Linked DNA regions of Homo sapiens. The protein of the gene in region 7 interacts with the protein of the main gene of each other region in a biochemical or structural test. Each region holds a gene or a part of one and is shown on either strand. Other genes may lie near its edges.

The links.
Region 1: the proteins of PDCD6 (region 7) and ANXA11 form a complex in vitro, tested with the Homo sapiens proteins (one study listed by BioGRID).
Region 2: the proteins of PDCD6 (region 7) and TLK1 form a complex in vitro, tested with the Homo sapiens proteins (one large-scale study listed by BioGRID).
Region 3: the proteins of PDCD6 (region 7) and SARAF form a complex in vitro, tested with the Homo sapiens proteins (one study listed by BioGRID).
Region 4: the proteins of PDCD6 (region 7) and YWHAQ form a complex in vitro, tested with the Homo sapiens proteins (one large-scale study listed by BioGRID).
Region 5: the proteins of PDCD6 (region 7) and KLHL12 form a complex in vitro, tested with the Homo sapiens proteins (2 studies listed by BioGRID).
Region 6: the proteins of PDCD6 (region 7) and SEC13 form a complex in vitro, tested with the Homo sapiens proteins (one study listed by BioGRID).

Annotation. Positions count from the first base shown.
Region 1 is NC_000010.11:80,198,449-80,202,695, reverse strand, and holds part of ANXA11 (annexin A11), read left to right. Parts: intron 1-1,302; exon of another isoform or gene 1,303-1,437; intron 1,438-4,247. UniProt on the Homo sapiens protein: Binds specifically to calcyclin in a calcium-dependent manner. Required for midbody formation and completion of the terminal phase of cytokinesis.
Region 2 is NC_000002.12:171,150,465-171,154,711, reverse strand, and holds part of TLK1 (serine/threonine-protein kinase tousled-like 1), read left to right. Parts: intron 1-4,247. UniProt on the Homo sapiens protein: Rapidly and transiently inhibited by phosphorylation following the generation of DNA double-stranded breaks during S-phase. This is cell cycle checkpoint and ATM-pathway dependent and appears to regulate processes involved in chromatin assembly.
Region 3 is NC_000008.11:30,066,065-30,070,311, forward strand, and holds part of SARAF (store-operated calcium entry-associated regulatory factor isoform 1 precursor), read right to left. Parts: intron 3,996-4,247; coding exon 3,578-3,995; intron 855-3,577; coding exon 713-854; intron 76-712; coding exon 1-75. UniProt on the Homo sapiens protein: Negative regulator of store-operated Ca(2+) entry (SOCE) involved in protecting cells from Ca(2+) overfilling.
Region 4 is NC_000002.12:9,588,983-9,593,229, forward strand, and holds part of YWHAQ (14-3-3 protein theta), read right to left. Parts: intron 2,534-4,247; coding exon 2,410-2,533; intron 1-2,409. UniProt on the Homo sapiens protein: Adapter protein implicated in the regulation of a large spectrum of both general and specialized signaling pathways. Binds to a large number of partners, usually by recognition of a phosphoserine or phosphothreonine motif.
Region 5 is NC_000001.11:202,902,897-202,907,143, forward strand, and holds part of KLHL12 (kelch-like protein 12), read right to left. Parts: intron 1-4,247. UniProt on the Homo sapiens protein: Substrate-specific adapter of a BCR (BTB-CUL3-RBX1) E3 ubiquitin ligase complex that acts as a negative regulator of Wnt signaling pathway and ER-Golgi transport.
Region 6 is NC_000003.12:10,304,113-10,308,359, forward strand, and holds part of SEC13 (protein SEC13 homolog), read right to left. Parts: intron 1,581-4,247; coding exon 1,447-1,580; intron 1,045-1,446; coding exon 921-1,044; intron 61-920; coding exon 1-60. UniProt on the Homo sapiens protein: Functions as a component of the nuclear pore complex (NPC) and the COPII coat. At the endoplasmic reticulum, SEC13 is involved in the biogenesis of COPII-coated vesicles.
Region 7 is NC_000005.10:278,004-282,250, forward strand, and holds part of PDCD6 (programmed cell death protein 6), read left to right. Parts: intron 1-4,247. UniProt on the Homo sapiens protein: Calcium sensor that plays a key role in processes such as endoplasmic reticulum (ER)-Golgi vesicular transport, endosomal biogenesis or membrane repair.

The DNA.
Region 1 (4,247 bases), on a different chromosome or scaffold from region 7:
GGAAGCGTCTGTGTAAGGGTATGCTTCACCAGCACTGCCAAGGAAGTAGACTTTTCACTTTCTCTGGATTTTTCTCTGCAACACCCTCTGATCCCATTGCCCCCAGAATAGTAGGAATTTTGAGTGATACCTAGATAGGAAAGCTCTTAGGATTAATGAAGAAACTGAGATTTTCTTGGTGGGAGTTTGTGCTTTTAAAGGGAGTTGTTGCAATTCAATGGAACTCTGTAATAACCACTGAAACTGTTACACATTAGGCTTACTGACCCTATCTCCTATAACCCATGAAATAAAGACCTGATAGTCACATAGTTGTTTGCTATTTGGGAGGATCCTAAAAGTACAGCCTGAACAGTGACCCAAACCACAGCTGGCCTTGCCCATGCTGATGTGAGGAAGGAATGGGTGGGGGCAACTAAGAAATTGGGGGACAGAGTTCTCTGTGCTAGGTATCCTAGGACAAGCCACCCAGCCACACAGAGACCCCCCGCTTCCCCCCCACAGAACAGTTCTGGATGATAAAATGCCTGCCTGGAATGGAGAATCAGATGAGAAGATGTTTGCAAAGGGGTTTGAGATCAGTTAGCGGGTGGTGATGACAATGTTGATACCGTGGGTGTGTGACTGCCAGGAGCTGTGAAGCAGAGGGTGGAGTGTGCGGTGGTCAAAGCCTGGTTCTGGGATCTCTAGCTTTCCAGGGGCTTAGGCTCCGCCTTAGCAGAAAAGAAGGAAAGGAAATTGAGAAGGAAGTCAGGTGTCCCCTGCCCCTCACACTTGGGGATGGCTGACTTGGAGGACATGAGATGGGGGAAATCTGAGTGAGGGCAGAGAAGAGAAATGTGGAGGCTGCTCACAGGGAGGCTAGGGAGCATATGGCATATCCAGCCTGGGGAGTGGCACCACTGGGGGAAAGGGTGCGTGTGACAGTGGGGAAGGAGTGGTGATAACAGATGTGAGCTTGCTGTGTCCACTAAAAAGGTCACGGCTATTTTTAGGAAGTAGGTGACAAGGCATGTTCCTGTAGAACTGCTTATTACTGAGAACCCACTGTTGGCCTCGCCCTGCGTGGTGTGCTTAAAAGGAGAGACCGCCCCCACTCACCCTAGAGTCATCCACCTGGTGTCCCTGAGACATGGGACACTGGATGAGGACCAGGTTTGGAGGATGAAGAAGATCATGTATTTGGTTTTGGACATGTTGTGTTTGAGGTGTCTTTGAGATACCAAATAAGCTGGTGGGTCTGGGGCTCAGGAGGCGTCTTGGCTAGACAGACATTTGTCTAGGTTGTGTTTGTATTTGAAGTCATGGGCACAGCGAGATTGAAGAACTCACCTCGAACAGCTGAGTAAAGGAAGATGAGCCTATAAAGGACCCAGAAAAAGAGCGACCTGAGAGGGGCCCAGAAAGCCAGGACAGAGTTGTATCCCAGGGGCCAGGGTGAGTCTGCTTCGTGGGATGGAGTGGTCAGCTTGGCATCGCGGCTGTGGTGAGTGATATGGAGGAGATGTGGCTGCCTTCACTGCTTTGGTGGGATGATGTGAGCAGAAGCGAGGTTGGAGTGAATGGGTGAGGAGTAGCAGGACGTGAGGATCTGATGATAGACAGGCTCTGAAATGTTGGCTTTGAAGGCGAAGAGGACGTCGTTGAGGGAGTGTTTGATTCTGTTGCCTCGATTTACCCTCCTGCTCCCTTTCCAATCCCAGAAGGGAACATGTGGATGGCCTGCCACTGACATCCCTCCCCACGGCGCTCCGTGCTCAGGCAGACCTAGGTACCTGCAAGGGTTTGCTTCTTTCACAAAGTGGATTCATTCTCATGAATGAATGAATGAGTGAATGAAGCATGTTGCCCAGGTTGGTCTCAAAGCCCTGGCCTCAAGCAATCCCCCCGCCCCGCCTCAGCCTCCCAAAGTGCTGGGATTACAGGAGTGAACCACTGCACCTGGCTGGTATTAAATTTTCTTTGTGGCCAACTGCATGATAAATATTAACATGTTTCATGGGCGTGAAAGGAGAAAATAGGTCCTCTGCGGGACGCTGACTTTAGATAGATCTCTTAACTTCAGTTACCCTTATATCCCTGCTTGCCTGGCTGTCAGATTCTGAGAGGTATAACAAAAACTCTCACTGTAGTTTTTTAAAGTCCAGCTCTACTTATATTTGTGGGAGTTCTAGCCTTTTGAGTTTGGCTTTCGTGTTTCATGTATATAGGCTTATCAAGCTGATCTTCCTACCTGTCATTTGCTGGTTATTTAATGCCTTTGGTCTTTGGTCTTAAATTCCATATTGTCTGTGTTTTAGGAGAATACATGGCCAAGGATCTGGGAGAATCTCTTTTCTTTACAGTCTTAAAATTAATAAATAAGTGCATTTTATAAGATAATAAGTGAAAGGCTCAGAAATTTAAATGCAGGCATCAGAGGACATTCAAGCCATGCCCCTTTAGCTTCTGTTCAGGCTCACATGGAGCGGTTAGTAATCAGGTCTCACTGATGACCATGAGCTCCCTGTCCTTGGCTGTCCTAATGGTTCCCATGATAGCCAGATTTTTAGGAGGGGTGGATAAAATGAGATTTGCGTGCAAACTCCTGGGACGTTGCCTGGGAACCTCTTCTCTCACTTTGCAATTCCTGCCCCTTCCTGTAGGTCCAAGAAGCGGACTGCTCTGCCTCTCATTTACGCATTTCCTTCCTCATTCCAGACAGCAAGATGAGTTTTTGACAGAGTAGCCAGTACAAACACTTCTCAGGGCCAGAAGTCAGAAAGACGCGGGCCCCAAGTCATAAGCTCATCTCTGTGCTTGTGTTTTAAGCCACATAAACTGTCTCAGCGGGCTGGACTAGGCTATGCCTTGTTGTACCCTGAGATCCTAGTGAGTAGTTCTCCAAGTACTGTGTTTACAGATAAAGGCAAATGCCAGAGAGAAATGGCTGGAAAAACCCCTTGGCTTGCTAAGGCAGGATTATCGAAAAGTCTTCAACATATATGTTTTTAAATTTTACATATTTTTTCATTTTTATTTATTTTGAGACCAGACTAATTTTTGTATTTTTGGTAGAGATGGGGTTTTGCCATGTTGCCCAGGCTGGTCTCAAACTCCTGGGCTCAAGTAATCTGCCCACCTCAGCTTCCCAAAGTGCTGGGATTACGGACATGAGCCACTGCACCCAGCCAACCACTGTGCCCAGCCTATTTTTACTATTAATATTTCCACCTCTGTTTTTCTTTGCATTTATTTGGTATGTCTTTGCCCAACCCTTAGTTTTAAATATTTCTTTCTCACTTAAAAAAGTTTATCTTGGCTGGGCGCGGTAGCTCACGCCTGTAATCCCAGCACTTTAGGAGGCCGAGGCGGGCAGATCACGAGGTCAGGAGATAGAGACCATCCTGGCTAACACGGTGAAATCCCGCCTCTACTAAAAATATAAAAAATTATCCAGGCGTGGTAGCGGGCGCCTATAGTCCCAGCTACTCGGGAGGCTGAGGCAGGAGAATGGCATGAACCCGGGAGGCGGAGCTTGCAGTGGAGCCGAGATCGTGCCACTGCACTCCAGCCTGGACGACAGATCAAGACTTGGTCTCAAAAAAAAAAAAAAAAAAAGTTTATCTTGAAGATGGAATCTTCGTAAATAAAATTTGTTTCTCTTATAATCAGAACGTGGTTGAGGGTGGATGGAGGTTGACAGAAGGCAATGATAACAGCAACAAACCTAATTGCATGGTTTCTGTCTTTGGTAGAGGAATTCTGACTGTTGACATACCAGATATACTTGATTTTATTCTTTGCATCTTGCTTATTACTTATTATACTTGCATGCATTCCTTTCCTGATTTTTGCTGTTGGGTTAAGTTTCTCATCGTCATCTTCCCCACGCCACCTGTATTACGTTTCAGGTTTGGTTGTGAATGAAGAGAGGAGCCCCGTCTCTCTCTCTCTCTCTCTCTCACTCACTCTCTCACTCTTTCTTGAAAAATCAGGGTCGAGGTTAAGTGTGTGTTCCATGAGATTGTCTTGGCACCAGGCTCCTTATGGACTGTTGTCCCTAGCATTCTCAAGGGCTGTGGTTTTCAAACTTGAGCATGTATAAGAACAATCTGGAAGGCTTGTTAAAGCATAGATTCTTGGACTGCACCCTGAATCATTCTAATTTAGGAGGTCTGTGATGGGACCTGAGCACGTTAATTGCTTACAGGCTCCCATATTGTATAATGCCGCCGGGCCACATGTTGGGTAGCACCGTCTAGGTG
Region 2 (4,247 bases), on a different chromosome or scaffold from region 7:
AGGAATATTGTTATGAAGTAGTAGAAGCAGTATGGTATAGGGGAGAAAGTGATTGTAGTTGGGATCTGAGGATAGTCTTTACTTTGCTATTAACTAGCTGTGTGACCTTGGGCAAGTTGCTTATCTCTGCTTCAGTTCCATAAACTAAGAATTACAGAGCTGAACCGGATCTTGGAAGCAATCTAGTACAAACCTCTCATTTTACAGATGAGGAAGCAGATAATTTGCACAGGCTTTCACTGTAAGACAGTTGGGCCCAAAATTCAGTTTTCTGACTCTCAGGTTGGTTTTTTTTTTCCATTATACTTTACAGCCTCTTTTCATCTGTAAAATGAGAGCATTGGATTAGAGGCTCTCAAAGGTCTCTTCCAGCTCAAAAATATTGTCATTCCTGTGACATTAGTCGTAATATAATTTATTAGGGGAAAGTTTGTAGCTTTTATTTATTGGTGAAAGAAATGTTTCTTGAAGAGGCAGTATAACCTTTGCAAGGTTATATTTTGTTTTTTTAAGAGAATATCATCAGGCGAGGTGCTATGTCTCAGGCCTGTAATCCCAGCTTTGGGAGACCAAGGCAAGAGGATTGCTTGAGTCCAGGAGTTTGAGACTAGCCTGATCCTGTCTCAAAAAAAAAAAAAAGTTAGCTGGGTATGGTGGCATATGTCGGTAGTCCTAGCTACTGGGGAGGCTGAGGTGGGAGGATCCCACCTTGATCCCAGCAGTTCAAGACTGCAGTTGATGCAGTGAGCTATGATCATGCCACTGCACTCCAGCCTGGGCAACACAGTGACACCCTGTCTCAAAAAAGAAAAAAGAAAACATCTTCATTAATACCAAAGGGTATTTAAGTTTATGAGCATGGTAAGTAGTGTGATAGGTAGTCTTGTTTTTTGTAAAACACTTATTAATATATTAATAATATAAATTGCGTAAATAACAGTGTGATACCCGGAAGTGAAGTAAGTAGGTGATTGTTCCTCAGAAAATATTGCTGGAGTTTATTTTATCTGGGACCCCTGTGTCTGCCCCTAGTTAAGTGCCTGTGTTGTTTAGTGTCTCACAGGATTGTCTGTTTCCATAGCATCTGCATCATGCTACTTTTATTATAGTTTTATTTATATTGTCTACTAGACAGAAAGGTCTTGAATTCAGAGACTATATTTTGTTCATTTTCGTATTTTCAGTGCACAGGAGGACATCCTCTACAGAGTTGGCACTCAACTAAAAGTTTTGTCAAAGGACTGTTTCACATACATCATCTCTCTATATATCATGGTATGCACATATTTCAGACCCAGGAAGATGCTTATTTTAGTAATTCTTAAGTGAACTATATTTTAGAGGGTGATATGGATAACAGTAACAGTAATAGCTAAAGTTTATTGTGTTCGCACATGTTAATTCTTATATCTCATAACTCTGAGTTACATACAGTTGTTATTCCCATCTTCAGATGAGAAAACTGAAGCACAGAGAAGTAAAGTGACTTACCAGTGTGACCTAGAGTAGTACATGATGGGGATTTGAACCAAGTTGGTGTATTTTAATCACTAGGATATATTGCCTAAAATATGAAAATTTGGTTTTTAGTATTTTAGTAGTTTTTCCTAAGCAGATTTTAACTTACTAATCAGACTTCCAGGCTTATTCATTTTACTTCTAAACTTTTGTTAACTTTTTTTTGCATGAGTTTTTATACACGTGTGAAGATAAGATTTAAAAAAATACAAAAACCCCAACCAAACAACCCAATTTAGAAAGCTGTACCAGCTGTGCAAATCCTACACTTCATTTTTTTAAGATAAGTTTTGTCCATTCATGGAAAATGTTAGAGATACATCAATGAAAAATTTTATTTCCATGTTAGATAATCTAATTTGTAATTCCATTTATCTTGATATTTTGGCCTCATAAACCCACTGGAGCCATAACAAGTAAATACTAGAATTTGAACAAAAAACTTCCCACTGTCAGTATCGGAGCAGTCTATTTATTGTGGAGGCTTTATAACCTGATGGACAAGGCTTTAAACTAAATTATAATGCTTTAGTGGCAGATCTTTGACTCTGTTAATAGTATTCAGTATGGGCAAGGGGAAGAGGATGTGCAGTCTAGCTAATCTGTAAAAAAGTATTTTAAAAAAATACTTAGTTTTAATTCTTTTATTGCTAACAACAACAACAACAACAACAATAACAAAACCTTTGGTAGCATGTATTATATAGCAAACCTAATTGAGAGGCAGGATTTGAATGGATTGATAGGAATTTATCAGTCATGGAGTGGAAAGATATGCAGAGCAGAGCAGATCCAGGTGGTAGGTTGTCAAACTTGAATTAAATTTTTCCAATGTGGCTTCATCATTAGGTCTGAAATTTAATGAATTTCAAGAAGGCAATTTAACCTGTATTTAAATAAAAGTGATTATATTCTACATAGATTCATTAGCCAAATATAAGTATTTTGGGGGGATGACTTAAAATATTTTTTCCTCTTCATCTATGTGGATTGTTAAGAATTGGTTATACTCATAAATTTGTGCTTTTCCTTGAAAACTAATTAGCTGGAGTAAATAAACTACTAGGTTTAAATTCTTGCTGTTAATATGATAAGTTGTGTGACTTCATGATTCCCCACTGGACACTTAGGTAAGTGCTTCCTATCTGAGGATGAATGTAGTTCCTCTGGTGAAGGTCAGAGGGGTTTGTGTGAGGCTAATCATACTCATCCTGTCTCCTAAGACCAGAGACATGTTTTACTTTTTTCCTTTTTTGATACTGTATATTTGCCTCATAAAAAATATAAAATTTCCCTTTTCCTTGCCGATTTCTTTTAAACATCTGTGTAAATATGTAGTTTAGTTCAACTTTGTATACTACTCTGTTACTTATTTCATTTACTTAAAGATACTTATTTCATTTACTTAAAGATACACATGGCTGGGCGCGGTGGCTCACGCCTGTAATCCCAGCACTTTGGGAGGCTGAGGCGGGCGGATCACGAGGTCAGGAGATCGAGACCATCCTGGCTAACACGGTGAAACCCTGTCTCTACTAAAAATACAAAAAAATTAGCTGGGCGTGGTGGTGGGCGCCTGTAGTCCCAGCTACTCGGGAGGCTGAGGCGGGAGAATGGTGTGAACCTGGGAGGCAGAGCTTGCAGTGAGCTGAGATGGCGCCACTGCACTCCAGCCTGGGCGACAGAGCAAGACTCCGTCTCAAAAAAAAAAAAAAAAAAAAAAGATACACATATTTATTAATGCTGGACACTATTCCCGGCATTTGTAAATAGTAATTCATTTGCTTCTCCTAACAATCACATGAAGTCCTGTTATTATCCCGACTTTATAGATGAGGAAATTGAGGCATAGAGAAGTTAAGTAATGTATCCAAGGGCCAGGCACAGTGGCTCATGCCTGTAATCCCGGCATTTAGGGAGGCTGAGGTGGGCAGATGGCTTGAGCGCAGGAGTTCGAGACCAGCCTGGACAACATGGTGAAACCCTGTCTCTACAAAAATATACAAAAATTAGCCGGGCATTGTGGTGCACGCCTGTAGTTGCAGCTAGTTGGGAGGCTGAGGTGGATCGCCTGAGCCCAGGAGGTTGAGGCTGCAGTGAGCCGTGATTACGCCACTACACTCCAGCCAGGGCAACAGAGTGAGGCCTTGTCTAAAAAAAAAAAAGGAATGTACCCAGGCACACATAGAGAATATTTAGCAGAGCCAGGATTCAGACTGGGCTGAGTACATGCTCTTAACAGTTACACTATTCTGTCAATGTTATTTCCTTGAATGGATGCACTATAATTGGTTAACTACTCTTCTTTAGGTAGGATGTTAGTCATGAATCCTTTGGTTACACGTAATAACAACACGACTTTGTTAAGTTAAAAAATGAGTGTATTGGTTCACATACTGGGTATTGTATGTGGAGGGTGATGGAATGGCTTTGGAAACAGCTAGATCCAAGGTTGCAAGTAATGTCATTGGGTTTCTTTGTCTCCTTTCTGGGTTTTTCTAGCCTCTTGCTTCTGGAGCCCCAGACATATACCTTTAGCTTAGCAACCACACTTGAAAGACAGCTTCTCTTTCCTGATGTCCACATGTCAGTTGTGTTGTTGGTAATCAATTCTGATTGTCAGTTCCTTAACCAATCATTGGAACCTGGGAGATGAGCTACAGCAAGGGTAGCCACTGTGGTGGCTGTGGTTAGGGTGAGTTGGGGAACCCACAGAAAGCCAGGATTGA
Region 3 (4,247 bases), on a different chromosome or scaffold from region 7:
GCCCTATTCCACGTGCCAGGGTAGGAGGGAGGATAGGACGGGTAGTACCACGAGTCTGAGAAGGGTGTTGCCGCTCTTTAAAGGGATAAAAGTAGGTTAGGCATTTTTTTCTTGTGGCTATAATTTTTAAATACCTTCCTGTTCCTAAACTGTCAGAAAAAAATATCTTTATCAAGTATTTTTTCCTGAATGTTCTGGTATATCAGAGTTAACATGAAATAAAAACCGTTTCATATTTCTGCCATTATTATGGTCACTGCTATGGGGGAAAAGTGACAGGGAGTCAATGCTCTTTCTGAATTTGCACTCGAATAAAATCTAAACTTAAACTACCATTAATACTTCATATTCCAAAATCTGGCCCCAAGCTCTTTCCAGCCTTATTTTTATCATTCTCCTACCAAACCAGACTGTTCCCCAAATGCTGTCTTCTTTCCTGCCTTCTTATTTTCTCAGATGTCAACTAAACAGTCTTTTTCTTATCTCATAATATATATGAAGGTGACACAGGAAGAAACACAGTGAAAGAAAATAACATACACAATACTGATCAAAACAAATATAGTGTACCTTCCCCCTTCCCAGAGAATCTTATTTAATAGGCTAACGTCACCACAATTTATTTTCCTTAGCAAAACTAAATGCAGTTAAATTGTAAGCAAAACAAGCCTCTTGAATTAAAGAGCAAGTGAGATCAATGCAAAAAGCTTACCTATTGCTGCCAAACAAATATCCTAGTATTCCACCAGTTCCCAAGCCTGTCCAGAACCCTGGTCCTGAATTTTCATATCCTTGTTGTCCTGTAAAAGCACTGCCAAAACCAGAAGTTGCACCATGGCCAGTATTCTGTGGTCCTTAAAATAAAAATGATTTATTATGTATCCTCACTTAAACATGACAGTCTACAAAAGCAAAGATAATGTAACATTTCAATTATTTCATCTGTACTGAATTATTAATAATACTCAGGCATCAAGTTATTAACAAGTTGTATTCAAAAAGGTATTTGTAAAATACTGGTTTATAATGAGGGAGAGCATTTCCCATAGATATGGGAGGAGAGGGATAGATTTTGGGACTGGGGAGGGTCTTGCTATAAAATGACATCTGCCCTGCTCAATCAGCTACTAGAAAATCACCCCACTTTTCAGGGTTACTTTCTCTCTGCAGTACAAACTCTAAGTGGAGTCTCTAAGAGCTCCAGATGAGAGCTGTGCCTCAGTCTCTAACCGAGGAATCCAAGGGGAGGCAGCCAGATATTTATTTGTGTCAGTTGGGAAGTCAGATCTCAAAGGGACCTAAAAAGTATCTTCTGCTCAGAGGAAGTTTTAACTGATGTATACATATATATAAGAAAGTGTGCTAATCTTACACGTGTGGCACAACAAATTTGTACATATGTACCTATCCATGTAACCACCACCCACACCAATAAACCATTTCTGGCACCCCAGAAGGCTCCCTCATGACAACTCCTAATAGATTCCCATCTATGTCAGAGATCAGCACTACTTTAACTTCTCTTACCATATTTTAATTCTGTCCATTCATGAACTTTTTCTAAACAGGATCACAAAGTATGTATTCTGTGTCCGGCACATCATTATGTCTATGGGAGTCAATCCTACCATTGCATTATCAGTTTTTTTCTTAACTCATGTGTCTTCCACCGTGTGAAAAATTTACACAGTCCCATTCTAATGTTTATGGATATTCCACCTCCATTTTTTGGCAGTTATAAATAAAACTGCTATGAACATTCCTGTGCATCTTTCTTGGTGCACCATGCATTCACTTCTCCCAGGTATGTACATAGGAATAGAATTGGGTATGCATGTTTGGGTTGTTTTACCATTTAAACTCCTACCGGCAAAGTATGAAAGTTCCAGTCACTCTACATTCTTGCCCATACTTGGTACTCTGTCTTTTTAATGTTAGCCATTATGGTGGTTATCTGGTGGCTAAAAATAATCTCCCTGTGGTTTTCATCTGCATTTCTCAGGAGACTAATGATGCTAAGCACCTTTTCTTATTTCTGTTGAACATGTAAATCATGGGTTGGGACCCCAGTACTGCTCCACGGCCTGTTAGGAACTGAGCCACACAGCAGGAGGTGAACAGCAAGCAAGCGACTGAAGCTTCATCTCTATTTAAAGCCACTCCCCCATCACTTGCATTACTACCTGAGCTCAGCCTCCTGTCAGATCAGCAGCAGCATTAGATTCTCATAGGAGCACAAACCCTACTGTGAACTGCACATGCGAGGGATCTAGGTTGCATGCTCCTTATGAGAATCTAATGCCTGATGATCTGTCACTGTGTCCCATCACCCCCAGATGGGACCATCCAGTTGCAGGAAAACAAGCTCAGGGCTCCCACTGATTCTACATTACATGAGTTGTTAATTATTTCATTATATATTACAATGTAATAACAACATAAATAAAGTACACAATAAATGTAATATGCTTTAATCATCCCAAAACCTTCTCTCCCCACCCCACCCCACCCCAACCCCCCTAGTCCGTGGAAAAATTGTCTTCCACAAAGCTGGTCCCTGGTGCCAAAAAGGCTGGGGACTGGTGAAGTAGATGTCTTCTCTTATTATAAAATGGGCATTCAAGTCCTCTTTGGAGGGCCTGTCTGCCTGTTGCTCAGATTTACAGGAGTTCATTTTATGTTCTACCGGAAATACATTTTATATATATATATGCCGGAAATACGTTTCGTAAATTTTTCCCAGTCTGTAGCTTGCCTTTTCACTCTCCTAATAGTGCCTTTTGATGATTAGATGTTCTTAATTTAAATAAAGTCTAATTTACCCATGTTTTCTTTTATGGCTAGTACTTTTTATGTTCTGTTTAAGAAATCTTTCCCTATCCTAAGGTCATAACAAATATTCTCCTATGTTTTATTCTGGAAACTTAATTGTTTTACCTTTTACGTTGAGATTTATAATACTTAAAGAATTAATTTTTATGTATAGTGTGAGACAGGAGTCAGGGCAAATGATTATTAGCAAAGTTGATCAAGTTTCTCTGATTAAGAGTATTTATAATTTAATCAGGCATTTTTTTTTTTTTTTTTTTTTTGGAGACAGGGTCTCGCTCTGTCACTCAGGCTGGAGTGCAGTGGCGCAATCTCGGCTCACCGCAACCTCCACCTCCCGGGTTCAAGTGATTCTCATGCCTCAGTCTCCCAAGCAGCTGGAATCACAGGTGCCCGCCACAACACCCGGCTAATTTTTGTATTTTTAGTAAGAACGGCGTTTTACCATCTTGGCCAGGCTGGTCTCAAACTCCCAACCTCAAGTGATCTGCCCACCCCGGCCTCCCAAAGTGCTGGGATTACAGGCGTGAGCCACCGCGCCCGGCCAATCAGGCATTAACATAGCAACCACAATATACCTTGGGAGAGAGCCAAACAGAAGAGGTAAAAGAAGTTGAAAGTAAAAAACAAAATGAGAAGACAAACCTCCTTTGGTTTCCCAATGCAACGATTTTCTATTTCAGAACCAAGCACAGGATGCACTAACCTCACACCCGCTCTATTTATGGCCACTGCGAGGGAAACATACCTGTGAACTCAGACTTAAAGCCTGGGGGAGGAGGTCCTGCTGAGTTGGTGAATCTCTGGTAACGGTGGGAAAATGGAGGATACTCAGAGTACGGTGGAGGAGAATACTGCCCGTCACTCAGGAACAGCTTATAGACTACAAACGCGATCCCAAGGAGTACCACAATGGTAATCAATCCACTCATGTTACAGGAATCCGCCGAGGACCACTTATAATAATAATCAGAGAAAGAGGCAAAGCCGTGCTGCTTTCCAGACTCCTTCAGTTTCTGCAGGCCAAGTTCTGTATAATCTAAATTATACTCCAAGCCACAAGAACCTCTTAGTACATACTGGTCTTCAGAGGACTCATAGCCTTCACAGCTCACCACAGTTTTTCCAAATTTGTATGCAATATCTAAGTCCGTCTTACATTCCCACTGTGAAGAAAAATAGAAACAGACTATTAGAAACAAACATTTTTTTCATTTAATATATGTTACTTGGGGGCCGGGCGCAGTGGCTCACACCTGTAATCTCAGCACTTTCGGAGGCCAAGGCGGGTGGATCACGCGGTCAGGAGTTCAAGACCCGCCTGGCCAAGATGGTGAAACCCCATCTTTATTAAAAATACAAAAATTAGCCAGGCGCAGTGGCAGGCGCCTATAATCCCAGCTACTAAGGAGGCTGAG
Region 4 (4,247 bases), on a different chromosome or scaffold from region 7:
ATGGTAGTGCGTGCCTGTAGCTCTAGCTACTTGGGAGGCTGAGGTGGGAGGACCCCTTGAGCCCAGGAGGTTGAAGCTGCAGTGAGCCAAGATCATGCTGCTGCACTCCCAACCTCAGTGACAGTTTGTCTCAAACAAACAAACAAAACAAAAAACCAGTTTAGAATGTTGCTTACATATAAACAGCTTAATGGAAAAAAAACATGAGATATTATAGTAAATCAGACTTTTTTCCATACCTAGGCTAAAACTATTTTCTTATTTTATGTCTTTTAATTCTATTACTTGGAAATGCAGCAATTAAAAATAATTTGACTGGAATAATTTACAGTGGCTCACGCCTGTAATCCTAACACTTTGGGAGGCTGAGGCAGGCAGATCACCTGAGGTTGGAGGTACAAGACCAGCCTTACCAACATGGAGAAACCCCGTCTCTACTAATAATACAAAAATTAGATGGGAGTGGTGATGCATGCCTGTAATCCCAGCTACTTGGGAGGCTAGGCACAAGCCTCACTTGAACCCGGGAGGCGGAGCTTACGGTGAGCCAAGATCGCGCCATTGCACTTCAACCTGGGCAACAAGAGCAAAACTCCATTCAAAATTAATAATAATAATAATAATTTGACTGGAATACCCTTTCCCTAAATAATGTAAACTTTACAAAGATCATCAACACCAAAATCTCTATTTTTCTGATTTGCAGAAATACTGATTCTTAGTATCAAGTGGTATTATTTGAAAGGCAATATAAAAGTTTCAATAAATAGGACAAAATCTGCTCTGACCAGAGTTTGATTACTAGCCTAATTAAAATGTTACTCCCCCTTCAAAAAATGTTCAGTATTACCAACACTAATCTGATTATACCCATGTTTTGAAAAGGGTAGTTTTCTGTATGAGGCCACTGGCCTATTACAGCTTTAGAGATACTGACGTAAGAGAATTAAGCTATCCCTTTATGACCTGAATTATGTTCATTTTCTTTCCTCTGAAATGGCACATTTATTGATCTAATCCCTGACTGGTACAGCCCACATGCAATAAGAAGTTCTTGCAGCTTGGCAAATTAGGAAGCACCAGTGTCTCAGCAATTAGGCTATAAAGACAGCCTATCTATGAATCGCAGCCTATCAGAATGTACACAGGACTACGTGTGAGACCTGAAAGTGCCAATGAGCTCCTAAGGGTTAAATCAGGTTAAAGCTACAGCTATGTCTCAATCTCCCAAATACTTCTCTTTGGCTTTCTGATACTTAAATGTACAGTTCCGTGCCCGTATCATGTCCAATTCTGCTTACCTTCATGGCAACAGAAATTACACATCAGTAACAGAATAAGTAAGTTTAGTATATAGATTTTGTTATAGCAAGGTATAACAGTTTCTCAGGTACAAGTTCTCTTTATATATTCAGTTACACTGATATTTAGGATGGCAAAACTCTCATTTTCAGATCATAGTAACTATTTGTAGGGGTATATCTTTGTAGACAGGGCAAAATTAAGAACAAAACAACAAACTTACTGGAAAAAATAAGGACTGACACTTCTAATACCTAGAACTTGATAAATCTGGTAGCAAGCACATACACTAAATTTAATGAGATCTATCTTATATTCAGCTGCCAGTATCCCAAGAGACATTCACTGCAAATAAATTCACTTCACTTTTTTATTATCAAGTTAGGCAATTCGGTCACTTTTTCTCATATCCATGTTTTCTATGATAGTCTAGGTTAAAAAAAAAAGGTATTTAATACTAAAATCTATTTTTATGACCACTACTTGATTAATCAACAGTTCCTGTATATTCAACCTTCTCAAGTAAAACCTAACCATGAGTCATTCAAACTTACTGTGAAGTTGGAGCAAGTTATACACCAGCAATAACACACTCATTTCACCTCTCCTCAGAAATCTGATTATATGTAATTAGCAGTCAATGTTATGACCCCTTAAAATAGACGATAATGAATATGACAAACAGCAAAAGCACAACAACCTGTTTCCACGTTCTGTATGTAATTTCCAGTGATCTGAAGTTTTAAGGCATAATAGAAAGGCCATGTGAAATGCAGAATCACTCATAAAGTTTACACAAAAAACTCTGGAGCTAAAAATATGGTGAACCAAAATTCTAAAAAGCATAAAAGATTAATCCTGTTTTAAATAATACCATATGAGATTACAGAGTTCACAGATGAGCTTAATTTTTTTAAAGAGCATGTGATGTAAATTTATAATCCAATTTTCATTTTTGAGAACATAAGGTAATACTAATTTTCTTGACATACATTCAATTATTAAGTCACAAAGAGCCTGAAGACTACGTATACTGTCATAGTGTCCCATTTATCCCCATTTCTTTTTTTTATATTCTACTTTTGCCCATATAACAAATAAACTTACGTTTTCGATCATCACCACACGCAACTTCAGCAAGGTACCGGAAGTAATCACCCTTCATTTTCAGATAGAAGACCTTACTCTCTGGATTAGTTGCATTGGCTATTAAATATTTATCCAACAATTCCTGAAATAAATAAGACAGAACATTAGGCACTAAACTTCTGCCTACTGTGCATTATCATTAAATGATAAAACTTCTGCCTAGCGGGCATTTCAATCATTTACTACTACAGTAATACTATACCATACCAGCCTGGACTTGAAGCATGTTCTTAGAGCAGGGGTTAGGTTGTTGCCACTAGTTGCCCTGGGAGGCTTTAAATGATGTAGCCTATAGTTTCTAATGGTAAGGCTAGATTCTAGATTACACCAAACATTGTAATTTGAAACAGCCTATCTGTTCACTCATCCATTCATTCAACATTTACTCATACCTGCTAGGTGCTATAACGGATATAGAGAAGACTTAAAATCAGGCCCCTGCCCTCAAGAAGCTCACCGTCTGTAAGTACACCAACTACATACCAAGAACTAAGAAAGATGTGAATACGGTGCTAAGGAAGCACACAGATGGAGTAGCTCTGCTGGAGATGGCCTCCAGTTAAGACAGGCTTCCCAGGGAAAGAGTATTTGAGGCATGAAGAAGGAAAAGTAGAAATGCACCAAACAGAAAACAGGGATGTGCACTCATTTTAGGGACGGGAAACAAAATGTTTAAAACATCAAGTACGAGGGAGAATAGTGCTACTCAGTGCCCTTTGCATTCAAGTATCCATCTAAAATGAGGTAAATACAGGAATCGAGAGTAAGAGGTTTAGAAACTTGCACAGCAATTTAAAAGAATAATTTTAGGTCTACGAAATCTAATTATTTTTTTAAAAAAGTTCTTGAGTATGTCTTTTGTCCCTAATTTCATACAAAGAAATTTTCACTTCTAGTACATGGTATGCTATGCCTTGGAGTATAAAAAGTCACAAAAGACAAATATGATAGAAATCTTCTTAGATTCCATTTTTCTTGATGCTAGGTCATCCATTTAAAAACCTTTTTAGGGCCGGGCGCGGTGGCTCACGGCTGTAATCCCAGCACTTTAGGATGCCAAGGCGGGCAGATAACAAGGTCAGGAGTTCGAGACCAGCCTGGCCAACATAATGAAACCCCGTCTCTACTAAAAATACAAAAAATTAGCCAAGCGTGATGGTGGGCACCTGTAATCCCAGCTACTCAGGAGGCTGAGGCAGGAGAATTGCTTGAACCTGGGAGGTGGAGGTTGCAGTGAGCCGAGATCATGCTACTGCACTGCAGCCCGGGTGACAGTGTGGACTCCATCTCAAAAAACAAAAACAAAAACAAAAAAAGCTTTTTTGTATTAAATATTACAAAGCAAAATGAAATTCTCATAAAAATGTTAAGATACTAATACCTACTTCATTGGTTTGTTTTGAGAATAAAACCAGTAACAGATGTCAAAGCCTGGAATAGTGTCACATGTTAAGTACTCAGTAAATGTTAGCTAGTATCAGCCTAGGTACACAGTTTGAAAAGCACTGCTCTAGGAAAAGTGAAACTAGTGAACGTTTTAAAGCAGGGAAGAGAGAAGATCCTTTTTACATTTTGGAAAAATAACCACAGATACGCTCAGTTAATATTATATAAAATACCATCCATGATACCAAGTTGGCAAGTCTGGAGAATTAACAAGTAAGGTTGAGTCAAATTCACATAACTGCTAAAGAAAAGGAAGGCTGTTTATAAATTTAAAAATATACAATTCTAACCAAGAACTTTCTTCTTGTTTATCTGACTAAAAGTGGTCTAACAAAATGCAATCACTGCAT
Region 5 (4,247 bases), on a different chromosome or scaffold from region 7:
CTGAGGTGGGAGGATCACTTGAGTCCAGGAAGTGGACGCTGCAGTGAGCCAAAATCATGCCATTGCACTATAGTGACACAGTGAGACCTTGTATCAAAACAAACAAACAAATGAAATAGATCACCATGGTGGCATACGCCTGTAGTCCCAGCTACTGAGGAGGCTGAGGTGGGAGGATTGCTTGAGCCCAGAAAGTGAAGTTTCAGTGAACCAAGATCATGCCACTGCACTCTAGCCTAGGAGCCAGAGTGAGACCTTGTCTCAAAAAAAAAAAAAAAAAAAAAAAAAATTACTTTGAGACATAAGGTGACTTTTTGAAGCTGTTACCAATTACACTCCCACCAACACTATAAAGGTGCCAACTCATTCTACTTTCTGAGGCACTGGATAGTTTTTAAATCTCTGACACTCTGGTAGGCAAAAAATTATGTTTAATTCTTTATAACTAATAAGACCCTATTATTAATTAGGTTGAACTCCCTCCCTTGTATCTAGTAGCCAGCTTTACTTGCCCTTCTGCGAACTGTACACTCAAATCTTTATTGTTTCTCTCATGCATTCTTGTTTTTTTTTTCTTTTTTGAGACAAGGTCTTGCTCTGCTGCCCAGGCTAGAGTGCACTGGTGCAATTATGGTTCACTGCAGCCTCAGCCTCGACCTCCTGGGCTCAAGCATCCTCCTAGCCTCCCACTTCAGCTTCCCTAGTAGCTGGGACCACTAATTTTTTTCTTTTCTTTTTTTTTTTGAAACGGCGTCTTGCTCTGTGGCCCAGGCTGGAGTGCAGTGGTGTGATCTTGGCTCACTGCAACCTCTGCCTCCTGGGCTAAAATGATTCTCCTGCCTCAACCTCCCCAATAGCTGGGATTACAGGCATGCGTCACCATGCCTGGCTAATTTTTATACTTTTAGTAGAGACAGGGTTTCATCCTGTTGGCCAGGCTGGTCTCGAATTCCTGGGCTCCATCGCCTGCCTCAGCCTCTCAAAGTGCTGGGATTACAGGTGTGAGCCACTGCTCTTGGCCCTGTCTCATGCATTCTTATGAGCTCTTTACACACAAATGGTTTTAACCCTTTAACCCTTTATCTATCTATCTATGTATCTATCTATCTATCTATCTATTTATCTATCTATCTATCTATGAGATGGAGTTTTGCTCTTGTTGCCCAGGCTGGAGTGCAATGGCACGATCTTGGTTCACCACAATCTCCACCTCCCAGGTTCAAGCAATTTCCCGAGTAGCTGGGATTACAGGCATGTGCCACCAAGCCCGGCTAATTTTGTATTTTTAGTAGAGACAGGATTTCTCCATGTTGGTCAGGCTGGTCTCAAACTCCCGATCTCAGGTGATCCACCTGCCTCAGCCTCCCAAAGCGCTGGGATTACAGGCGTAAGGCACCCTGCCAGGCCAACCCTTTAACCCTTTAAAGGGTTGTTCCAAACCTATGTTCCTAATTTATCATAATTTTGTATATGATTTTTTTATTTATTCAAATATGTTTTTATTCTTTGTCATTTCTTCCACTATTTTGTGCCTAGAAAGTCCTTCTTCCCCAGAAGAACTCCTAAGGTTTTAATGTTTTAACCCTAAGTTGGAGACCAATACTCAAACAATCTGACTCGTGTAAAAAAAAGCTAGTGAAAGAGTCAACCTGAAAGAAGCCTGTTTGTTCTCTGCCAATGATGGAGTACTTGTTAAGTGAGATTTTTATCTTTTTAATGAGAAAAGCTTGTCTAGGACATCTTACAAGAACAGTGTGAAAAAGCACATTTCTAAAACTGAAGAACCTGGCAGTGGCATGGTCATTATTTTTAGAAAGAGGGGAAGGGGAGTGTGTGTGTGCTGTGACACGTTGTTAGAGAAATAAGGCAGATGCAGGACTGCTAAAATAACAGGGTTCAGAGACTCACATTTCCATTTGCACTGATCTTTAGTTCAAAAAAGGAGACAGCCACAAATTAGAAAAGTAATTTCCATTATATCTTCTTTGAGACAGTAATGGGTAAGGTTAATAACTAAAAATCCCTTATTTGGCAGGCTATTTTAACTTGGCTGTCAATTTAATTTCCTTCTGCTGTATGCAGAAGAGTCATTATCCTGGTAGCTGGTTTAGCAGCCAATATGCATAGAGATGGGTAGAGGACATGATGGTAAGAACAATCTACCTGCTAAGGCACTGACAAAGCGATACTAAGAATCTAATTGGAAACTGCTTCAGCATTTCCCTTCTAGAACTTCTGAAAAATAACCTCAAGACTATGAAGATATATAGATTTATAGTTTAATCCCTTAAGGTCAGGGCAATAAGCAAGTTCTCTAACCAAGCAGGAGCCCCTTCTGCTGCCTGTTCAGAGATATGCAAGAAATGTACCTCCAAAGAATCTTCTGGGTTTACTGATTCACAAAAATTTTCATTAGCTTTTAGTTCAATTTAATAAGCAAATAATGAGTGCTATCATGCAAAAAGGAAACATTTTTCTGTGTTGGAAAGTACCTTAGTGACTGAACATTAACTCTGTTGATATAAAGAACTGGTAACCCAGAGAAGTTAAAGGACTTGTCCAAACAGCAAGTTACTAGAGTGAGTGTCGGAAATTGGAGTAAAAATCAAAGTAAGCAAAATGTCTTATCTCCTAGTGCCAGGTTCTTTCCACTACATCACTGGCTTTCATGGTATAGGTTGAGTAACCCTTATCTGAAATGCTTACGACAAGAAGCGCTACAGATTTCAGACACTTTTGGATTTTTGTAATATCTGCATTATTTCTTTGCACAACTATTTGCGCATCCCTAATTCAGAAACCCCAAATCCAAAATGCTTCAATGAGCATTTCCTTTGAGCATTATGTTGGCACTCAAAGTTTTAGATCTTGGAGCATTTTGAATTTCAAGATTTTCAGATTAGGGATACCCAACCCGATTTTTTTTTAGACAGAGTCTCACTCTGTCGCCCAGGCTGGAGTGCAGTGGCGTGATCTCAGCTTACTGCAGGCTCCATCTCCTGGGTTCACGCCATTCTCCTGCCTCAGCCTCCTGAGTAGCTTGAACTACAGGTGCCCGCCACCACACCTGGCTTTTTTTTTTTTTTTTTTTTTTTTGTATTTTTAGTAGATACGGGGTTTCACCGTGTTAGCCTGGATGGTCTCGATCTCCTGACCTCGTGATCCACCCGCCTCGGCCTCCCAAAGTGCTGGGATTACGGGCATGAGCCACCGCGCCCGGCCACCCAACCCAATTTTTAAAAATAATAATTATTTTTTAAAAAACAAAAGTAATGGCCAGGCGCGGTGGCTCATGCCCGTAATCCCAGCACTTTAGGAGGCTGAGGTGGGCGGATCACCTGACGTCAGGAGTCCGAGACCAGCCTGGCCAACGTGGTGAAACCCCGTCTCTACTAAAAAATACAAAAAATTAGCCAGGCGTGGTGGCACACACCTGTAATCCCAGCTACTTGGGAGGCTGAGGCAGGAGAATCGCTTGAACCCAGGAGACAGAGGTTGCAGTGAGCAAAGATTATGCCACTGCACTCCAGCCTGGGCAACAAGAGCAACGCTTCGTCTCAAAAAAAAAAAAAAAAAAAAAAAAGTTCCTACCCTGGGAGGAAAGGCAAAATTGGGAGTTTATTGTTTAATGGGTACAGAGTTTCAGTCTTGTTAAGACAAAAAGAGTTACAGAGATTGATTGTATAACAATGTATTTAACATGAGTCAACTGTACATGTAAAAATGGTTAAGATGGTAAATTTTATGCTAAATATATTTTATTTAATTAATTTATTTATTTTTGAGATGGAGTCTCACTCTGTCGCCCAGGCTGGAGTACAATGGTGCAATCTTGGCTCACTGCAACCTCCGCCTCCCGGGTTCAAGCGATTCTCCTGCCTCAGCCTCCAGAGTAGCTGGGATTACAGGTGTGCACCACCACACTCAGCTAATTTTTGTATTTTTAGTAGACATGGGGTTTCACCATGTTGGCCAGGCTGGTCTCGAACTACTGACCTCAAGTGATCTGCCCACCTTGGCCTCCCAAAGTGCTGGGATTACAGGTGTGAGACACCGTGCCCGGCCTGTTACATATATTTTACAAAAAAGAAAAAAAAGACTTCCATCCAGAAGGTATACAAATATTTTCCTATAATTTCTTCTAATATTCTCATAGTTTTTCACCATTCAGTCCTTCAATCTATCTTGTGTTGATATGTATCTGTGTATAAAGCATATGAAACACAGATCACATTTTGTCATCTTGC
Region 6 (4,247 bases), on a different chromosome or scaffold from region 7:
TTTAGGGGACCACGTATTGCTTGAGGCATCATCACAGGTCCAAATGAACACACGACCATCCTAGGAAGAAACAGGATAGAGTCAGGAGGTGGAGTCAAGACTCCTGCGTTTGTGATGTGATGTCCTCCCAGTCTAGAGCCACCCGGCACCTCTCTGCAGGAACAGGGTGGGGGATTCAAAGGGGAGCCGAGGACCTCTGGGGCGTCCACAGCTTTGTTTCTGTCTCTTCACACTGGTTAAGAGTCTCCCGGATTCCTTTTCTCATCCGGGTTTCGGAGGTGGACTCTGTCTGCATTGCTAACTCAGATTTTCTCTGGGGTTTTCCTCATGCCTGCCAAGTCACTTCCACTGGCCGTCTATACCTTCTCAACTGAATGGGCAGAGCTCTCCAAAAACCAAGCTCCAAGAATGAGAAGGCACAAGTAAAAAAGCACAAAAATCCCAAGTTTAGAACCAAACCAAACAGGTTCCCATGATGTGAAAGGCCTAGCTGGCTCCCTCTAGGGTGGTGGTGTATAACTGAAGGCTCACCCTTGGCCGTCCTTGCTGTCTGGGAAGGGTGGCTTGGTAGCTAAGCGTATAATTCCCATCCAACCCCATCGTTGCTTGGGAACACTTGGAACTGCACCTGGGCACCTCGGCGCCCTAGTCTCACATGGGTCAGAAGGGAAAATTCATCCCGAATCCGCCTCCTTCTTGGTGCCGGTTCTGTTGTAGCTGTCTCATCTCAGTGGAGGCAGGCCACTTGTGGCTTCTGACCAAGACTTCCCCACACAATGACCTGACTCCCTGTGCTCTGGGCCAAAGGTGCCTGTTGCTCTCCCTTTACCTTCCCAGAGGACTTTCTGCTAAGGAGACTAAGAGCTGATGGGCCTGACTCGAGACTAAATGACAAGGGATACTCATGGCCCTGGGCTGACCTGGGAGCAGCTGGCGATGGTGCTGGTGGGCAGGCCGATGGAGGGGGCCCAGGCCACATCTCGAACCCAGTCACTGTGCGCTTCTAGCTTCTGCTCCTCCTTCCACTGGCCGTCCTCCTCCTCCCTAACAGTGGGGACAGAAAGAGAATCAGCAGGGGGCCGTTCCCACACCTCAACTCCTCCCCAACCCAACAGGCTCTGCCTGGGGTGGAGAAGCGATTCCATCTTTCTTCTTTCATTCATGGAGTTTGTGGCATTTTATTCCCTTCACCCCAGCTGTAAAAAAAACCCTCCAGAAAATGCTCTGCTTCCACAGCCAAAGAGTCAGCTCCAACAGTTGGGAATTAGGTGAACAGGTGTTGTGTTGTTTTTCAAGGATGTCCTCCAACAGATTGAAAACAGTATTTTACTGGCAGGAGGGAGAAAGAAAGGTGACCTTGTTTCTTGTGAGTGTGGCTGAGTCATGGTGAGTAGGGTAAAGGGTAGAAGTGTCCCCTCAAAGAGAAGGCCACACATCCCTACTTACTTCCACAGCTTGATGAGGTTGTCACAGCCACCTGATGCAAACCTCTTGATGTAATTGGGTTTCTGCCCCGATGGGTGGTCTATGAGGCTTCCAGGTACAACAGCAGGGGCCCAGCTGACGGCATTGCAGCCAATCTGTAAAGATGGGACACATGGTGACTCTGCCTTGCAAGAGAACACTGCTTCTGCAGACCCAAGCCTGCTGTCCCTCTCCCCTCCGCTTCTCAGGACTGGAGTGTGTGTGAAGGCTGACATGAAGCACTCATCATGGGGTCCACTGCTCAGAATTCTCCCTCAAGGATCCCAACAGTGTGTGCATTTTTCTGCAGTGTGCGCTAAAAGTAGAAATTAAGAACTCCCACAAGTTTAAGAAACAGGACATTTTCTAAACACATGAAAGAATGGTACATTGGAGCTTTTTTTTAAGAAAAATCTTTTATTATAAAGTAATAGATCAAGAAACAAGAATTCTGCCACCTGCCTGAAAAGCCCTGTCATTATGCCCTTCCTAATCACAGCTCCCTCTTCCACTATAAGTAACCACTGCCCTAACTTCTAACCCATTTTCCCCCCATTTTATCACCCAAATGTGCACCCCTAGATACTATAGTTTAGTCTTGTCCATTAAACATTTTTTTGGATGTTTTTTACATCTCCTACTTTGCAGATTCCTCCTCTGATTTTTTTCCTTACAATTTTTCTGCTGAAGAGAGCCTAGTCTCTCGGTCTGGGTTTTGCTGCTTCATATGCAGTTCAATATGTTCCTCTGAATTCCTGAAAACTGTCAGCTGGAGCCAAGACTGGACAGACTCAGGTGTGATCCCTTTGGCAAGACTAGAGCTGGTGCGTTCTCTCATCAGGAGGCACGTTAGATTGTCTCTTATATTAACAGCTGTCAATAACTCAGGCCTCTCTTAATTCACTGGGGCTTGTAAAATGGTGATACTCTAATTCCATCCTTTCTTTGTCATTTATTCCATGGAATGCTCCAGATAGGGACACTTCTTCTCATTAACTATTCAGTTACCCAGGGATAGAGGTCTGATATGGTTTGGCTGTGTCCCTACTCAAATCTCATCTTGAATTCCCACGTGTTGTGGGAGGGACCTGGTAGGAGGTAATTGTATCACAGGGGCAAGTCTTTCCCATGCTGTTCTCATGATAGTGAATAAGTCTCGCTAGATCTGACGATTTTAAAAATGGGAGTTTTTCTGCACAAGCTCTCTCTTTTGCCTGCTGCCATCCACGTAAGCTGTGACTTGTTCCTCCTTGCCTTCTGCCATGACTGTGAGGTTTCCCCAGCTACGTGGAACTGTGAGTTCTCCATCCTCTTTCCTTTGTAAATTGCTCAGTCTTGGGTATGTCTTTGCCAGCAGCGAGAAAACAGACTAATACAAGGTCAAAAAGGAAAGGCTGGATAAACGCTTGATTCTTTCTGAACTGGTTCTATCACTTTCCAAAGATGACTGATTCTCCTCTTTATTTATTATTAACAATTTTTTTTTTTAAAAATTGAGACAGGGTCTCACTGTCACCCAGGCTAGAGTGCAGGCTGGTAAGATCATGGTTCACTGCAGCCTCAAACTTCGTAGGCTCAAGTGATCCTCCCACCTCAGACTCCCAAAGTACTGGGATTATAGGTGTGAGCCACTGCCTTTTTTTTTTTTTTGAGACAGAGTCTGGCTCTGTTGCCCAGGATGGAGTGCAGAGGCGCGATTTTGACTCACTGCAACCTCCACCTCCCAGGTTCAAGTGATTCTCCTGCCTCAGCCTCCCGTGTAGCTGGGACTGCAGGTGTGTGCCACCACGCCTGGCTAATTTTTGTATTTTTAGTAGCGTCGGGGTGTGTTAGTCCATTTTCACGCTGCTGATAAAGACATACCTGAGACTGGGCAGTTTACAAAAAAAAGAGAGGTTTAATGGACTTACAGCTCCATGTAGCTGGGGAGGCCTCACAATCATGGCAGAAGGCAAGGGAGGAGCAAGTGACATCTCACATGGATGGCAGCAAAAAGGGAGAGAGAGCCTGTGCAGGTGAACTCCCCTTCATAAAACCATCAGATCTTGTGAGACTTATTCACTATCAAGAGAACAGCATGGAAAAGACCTCCTCCCATGACTCAACTCCCACTGGTTACCCCCTACAACACATGGGCATTCAAAATGAGATTTGGGTGGGGACACAGCCAAACCACATCATGGGGCTTTGCCATGTTGGCCAGGCTGGTCTTGAACTCCTGAGCTCAGGTGATCCGCCTGCCTCAGCCTCCCAAAGTGCTGGGATTACAGGTGTGAGCCACTGTGCCTGCCCTGGGCCCAGCCTTTTAACCCTCATTTCGTCTTAGTTCTCTACAAGTAACTATATATTTATGCTGAAGTCTTTGTAGTCATTTTAGTTGTGTGACTTGTATCCTCTAGTAGATTTCTCAGGAAGGGCTCCTAGAAACAATAGTCCCTGAATTCTTGCATATTGATAATAGTTCATATCCTTTACACTCAAAAGCTAATTTTAAAAACAGCTTTGATATAGTATAATTGACATAAACTGCATATCAAGTGCATGATTTGGTGAATTTTGACAAAAATATATCCTGTAGGATCATCACATCACCTCAATCAAGATAAGGAACATGCCCATCATTCCCAAAAGTTTCCTCGGATCCCCTGGTAATCCATCTCCCCATCCTGCAGCCCCCAATCGTGGTGACCATGGGCCTGCTCAGCTGCATTTCCTAGATATTACAGCAGTGGAATCACAGTGTGTCCTTTTTCTTCTTTTTTTCACTCAGCATAATTATTTTG
Region 7 (4,247 bases):
TTCCTAGATGAGTCCCTTCTCCAGCTCAGGTTCCGCCTAAGCCTCAGGGTTCCTTACTTGGTGGGCACCACCTGCTCCCTTCCCCACCTTTGTCCTCTTTTTCCTCTGCTGGCTCCTCCGGGGTTGGGTGTGTTCAGAGGCAGAGACAGGCTAAAGGTCTTTGGCTTTTAGGTTCTGTTGGTGGGTGAGTTCCAGATATAGCTTTCTCTTGTAGGATATTTCATTTATTTATCTATTAAAAATATTTATTTAGAACACACCATTCATGTGCCAGACCCTGTCCAGGCACTGGGGATAGGGTGATAAATGAGATCAACAAAAATACCTGCCCACATTAAGCTCCTGTTCTAGGGAAGACAGAAAGAAAATACACGTGTCCTTAGTATATTAGAAGATTCCAAGTACTGTAGAGAAAAATAAAGCAGGCTGGACTCGGTGGCTCATGCTTGTAATCCCAGCACTTTGGGAGGCTGAGGTGGGAGGATTACTTGAGCTCAGGAATTTGAGACCAGCCTGGGCAACATGGCAGATCCTGTCTCTCCCAAAAAAAAAAAAAAAATTTAGCTGGGTATGGTGGCGTGCATCTGTAGTCCCAGCCACTGGGGAGGCTGAGGAGGGAGAATTGCTTCAGCCTAGGAGGTGAAGGTTGCAGTAAACCGAGATCGTGCCATTGCACTCCAGCCTGGGTGACAGAGCCAGACCCTGTCTCAAATAAAACAAAAGGAAAGAAAGAAAATGAAAAAAAGAAAGAGATGGGGCAAGCAGGGGAGAGGGCTGGGGACACAGGGGAGGGTGCTGGGGATGCAGGGGAGGGTGCTGGGGACACAGGAGGGTGCTGGGGATGCGGGGGAGGGTGCTGGGGACACGGGAGGGGCTGGGGACATGGGAGGGGCTAGGGATGCAAGCTTTCCTGAGTTCCCACAGTTCTCTGCCCCTCTCCTGTCTCACGGGGTGTGGGCCACCTGTGGCTTGCGGTTGTTTCGCGCCAAGCTAATATCTTGTTCTTCCCAACAGAGAGGCCCGTTGAGGCTTCTCTGTCCTCCATGGGGAACAGCATTGGCCTAAACCTGCAGACACCATTGCAAAGGGAAGTCAGCTCAGGCAAACCCGCTGGTGAAGAAGAATTCCAGTGTGGGGACACAGAGACTGACATTTCTTGCCATGGGTGATTTAATTTTGGGCCTCAGTTTTTCATTCCCCCCTAAGAGTATGACGCAGCCGCATCCTTGCCAGGGCCGGAGGGAGGGTGGATGGACTTATAGGTGTTGCTTGTGGCTGGGTGACTTGCTTCTGCCAACGAGATTTTCACAGACACGGCACAAGCAGAAGCCTGGAATGTGTGGCACTGCCAGGCCTGCCCTCTTAGGCTCTTGATTTTCCCCACGAGATATGCGTGCCCCAGGGAACGGCGGCTCTGGCTGTGGAATGAGAGGCGTGTGGAGCAGGCATGGTTCCCACCCTCAGCCTAGAGTCAAGGCCAGACTAGATCAGCCTAAGCCCAGCCACGCCACGGGTGCAGCAGTGAAGAGCAAATGCCAACTGTCCATGACAGTGACTTTCAAAGGGGCGTGTCATGTGCCTCATCCCAGCAACAGGGAAGGCATTTCTCTATCAGTCAGTTGGTAAATGATTATTGACAATGTGTGGGAAGGTGGAGTTATTTGAGTAGATTTGGCCTCTATTCTCATGGAGCTTCCTTTCTAGAGGGGAAGGCAGATGATGGATGAATAAATATAAATGATTCTAATAGGTTGGTGCAGCAGTCATTAAAAGTAATGGCAAAAAAAAAAAAAAAAAAAAAAACGAGGAGCCGGTGCTGCAGTTCATTAATAGTAATGGCAAAAACTGCGATGACTTGTGCGCCAACCTAACCCAGTAATCACGGGTGTGCAAAATGTGGCGATGGGCAAGTTCCGAGTGCTAGGAGAGCATCTAGCTTCCCGGAGTCAGGAGACGGGGGTTGGCAACCTAACCAAGGTTAAGTCCAAGGGAGGGGGGTGGGCAGGGAGCGATATTTCAGTGGAGACTCCAAGGACGAATGGTATTTAGAGAGTAAACCCCGATAGAGAGGGTTTGTGTCTGGCACAGAGAAGAGCCTGTGCAAAAGCCAGCGGGGCGAGAGGACACCATGTGTTCATCCACCTGAGGGGCGACCAGCAGGCTGGAGCTCAGCGGGTTGAGAGGAGGATGCAGAGCCCGGGAAAGGCACCCTAGGCAGAGGGCACAGCAGGGCAAAGGCCTGGAGTCAGGCCTGAGCCTGTGTGGTTTGAGGAACGGATAGAGGCCTGTCCGGCAGGAAGGGAACAGCACAGGGGAGAGACCTTAGGCCAGAGCAGAGGGCAGGGCTGTGCTGGGCACTGTGGGCTGTGGATGGTGCTGGCATTTAAGAGGGGAGACCATAGACCAGGGCAGAGGGCAGGGCTGTGCCGGGCACTGTGGGCTGTGGATGGTGCTGGAATTTAAGAGGGGAGACCATAGACCGAAGTAGAGGGCAGGGCTGTGCTGGGCACTGTGGGCTGTGGATGGGAGCTGGCATTTAAGAGGGGAGACCATAAGCCAGGGCAGAGGGGTGGGGAGGGCTGGGCCAGGCACCAGAGTGGAGACCACAGGCCAGGGCAGAGGGCAGGGCTGTGAGGGCACTGTAGGCTGTGGATGGGAGCTGGCATTTAAGAGGGGAGTCCATAGACCAGGGCAGAGGGCAGGGCTGTGAGGGCACTGTAGGCTGTGGATGGGAGCTGGCATTTAAGAGGGGAGTCCATAGACCAGGGCAGAGGGCAGGGCCGTGCTGGGCACTTTGGGCTGTGGATGGGAGCTGGCATTTAAGAGGGGAGACCATAGACCAGGGTAGAGGGCAGGGCCGTGCTGGGCACTTTGGGCTGTGGATGGGAGCTGGCATTTATGCTCAAGTGATGGGAATATGTTAAAAGATTTTAAGGAGGGGAGTAACAGTTGGGATTAATGTGTATTCTGGGAATCTCAACAAAGTAAATTCATAGTTCGAATTTTCATAAGACTTCTGCACAGGCAGAGAGAAATAAGATCGCATCTACAGCTGTGTGGTGATTTTCTTTAAAAATACTACTAAGTTTTTAAACGTGATTTCAAATGGTGTGTTTCTGTTTCACATTGGACATAAGTAGATTGCAAGGCTAATGGAAAGTAGAAAAGTTAACTCATGAACATAAAAGAGACATCGATTTGAAAACAAAACATTTATTCATTTACTTCTGCTGCAGTTTTCTTGACTGCTGAATTTCGTAAGAAGGGATTGGTCAGGGAGGGTCTTGGGGCTGAAGACCTGGAGAGGAGCTGGTGCTATCGCTGTTCAAATCTGAAGGTGGTGGAGATGGAGCCTTGGGGAGGAGCCGGTGCTGCCTTTTAAGTCTATGAGAGTCGTTGAGCTGGAGGTCCAGGGAAGAGCTGGTGCTGCCACTGATGTCTTAGGTTGTGGAGCTGAAGACAGTGAAGGAGCTGGTTTGGCTGTTCTGTGAGGGTCGTGGAGCTGGAGATCCAGGTGGGAGAGGTGTTCTAGTTTGAGGGTCATGCAGATGGAGATCTGTGAGGAGCTGATGTTATTTTAATTGGTGGGTCGTAGAGCTGGAGACCAGGGAGGAACTGGTGTGGTTCTAGTTTGAGGGTTGTGGAGCTGGAGACACAGGGAGGAGCTGAGGTTCTAGTTTGATGGTTGTGCAGCTGAAGACTCGGGGAGGGGCTGAGGTTCTAGTTTGAGGGCCCTACAGCTGGAGATCCGGAGAGGAGCTGATGTTTTAGATTGAGGGTCGTGCAGCTGGAGAACCAGACAGGAGCTGATGTTATAGATTGAGCATTGTGCAGCTGAAGACTCGGGGATGAGCTGATGTTGTTCGCTTTGAGGGTCTTTCAGCTGAAGACTCGGGGAGGAGCTGATGTTCTAGATTGAGGGTCATGCAGCTAAAGACTTGGGGAGGAGCTGATCTTCTAGTTTGAGGGTCATGCAGCTGAAGACTCGGGGAGGAGCTGATATTCTAGTTTGAGGGCCCTGCAGCTGGAGATACAGATAGGAGCTGATGTTGTAGTTTGAGGGTCTTGCAGTTGAAGATTCAGGGAGGAACTGCTCATGTAGTTTGAGGGTCATGGAACTGGAAACCCAGAGAGGAGCTGATCTTATAGATTGAGGGTTCTGCAGCTGAAGACTCGGGGAGCAGCTGAGGTTCTAACTTGAGGAACCTACAGCTGGAGACCTGGAGAGGAGCTGATGTTCTAATTTA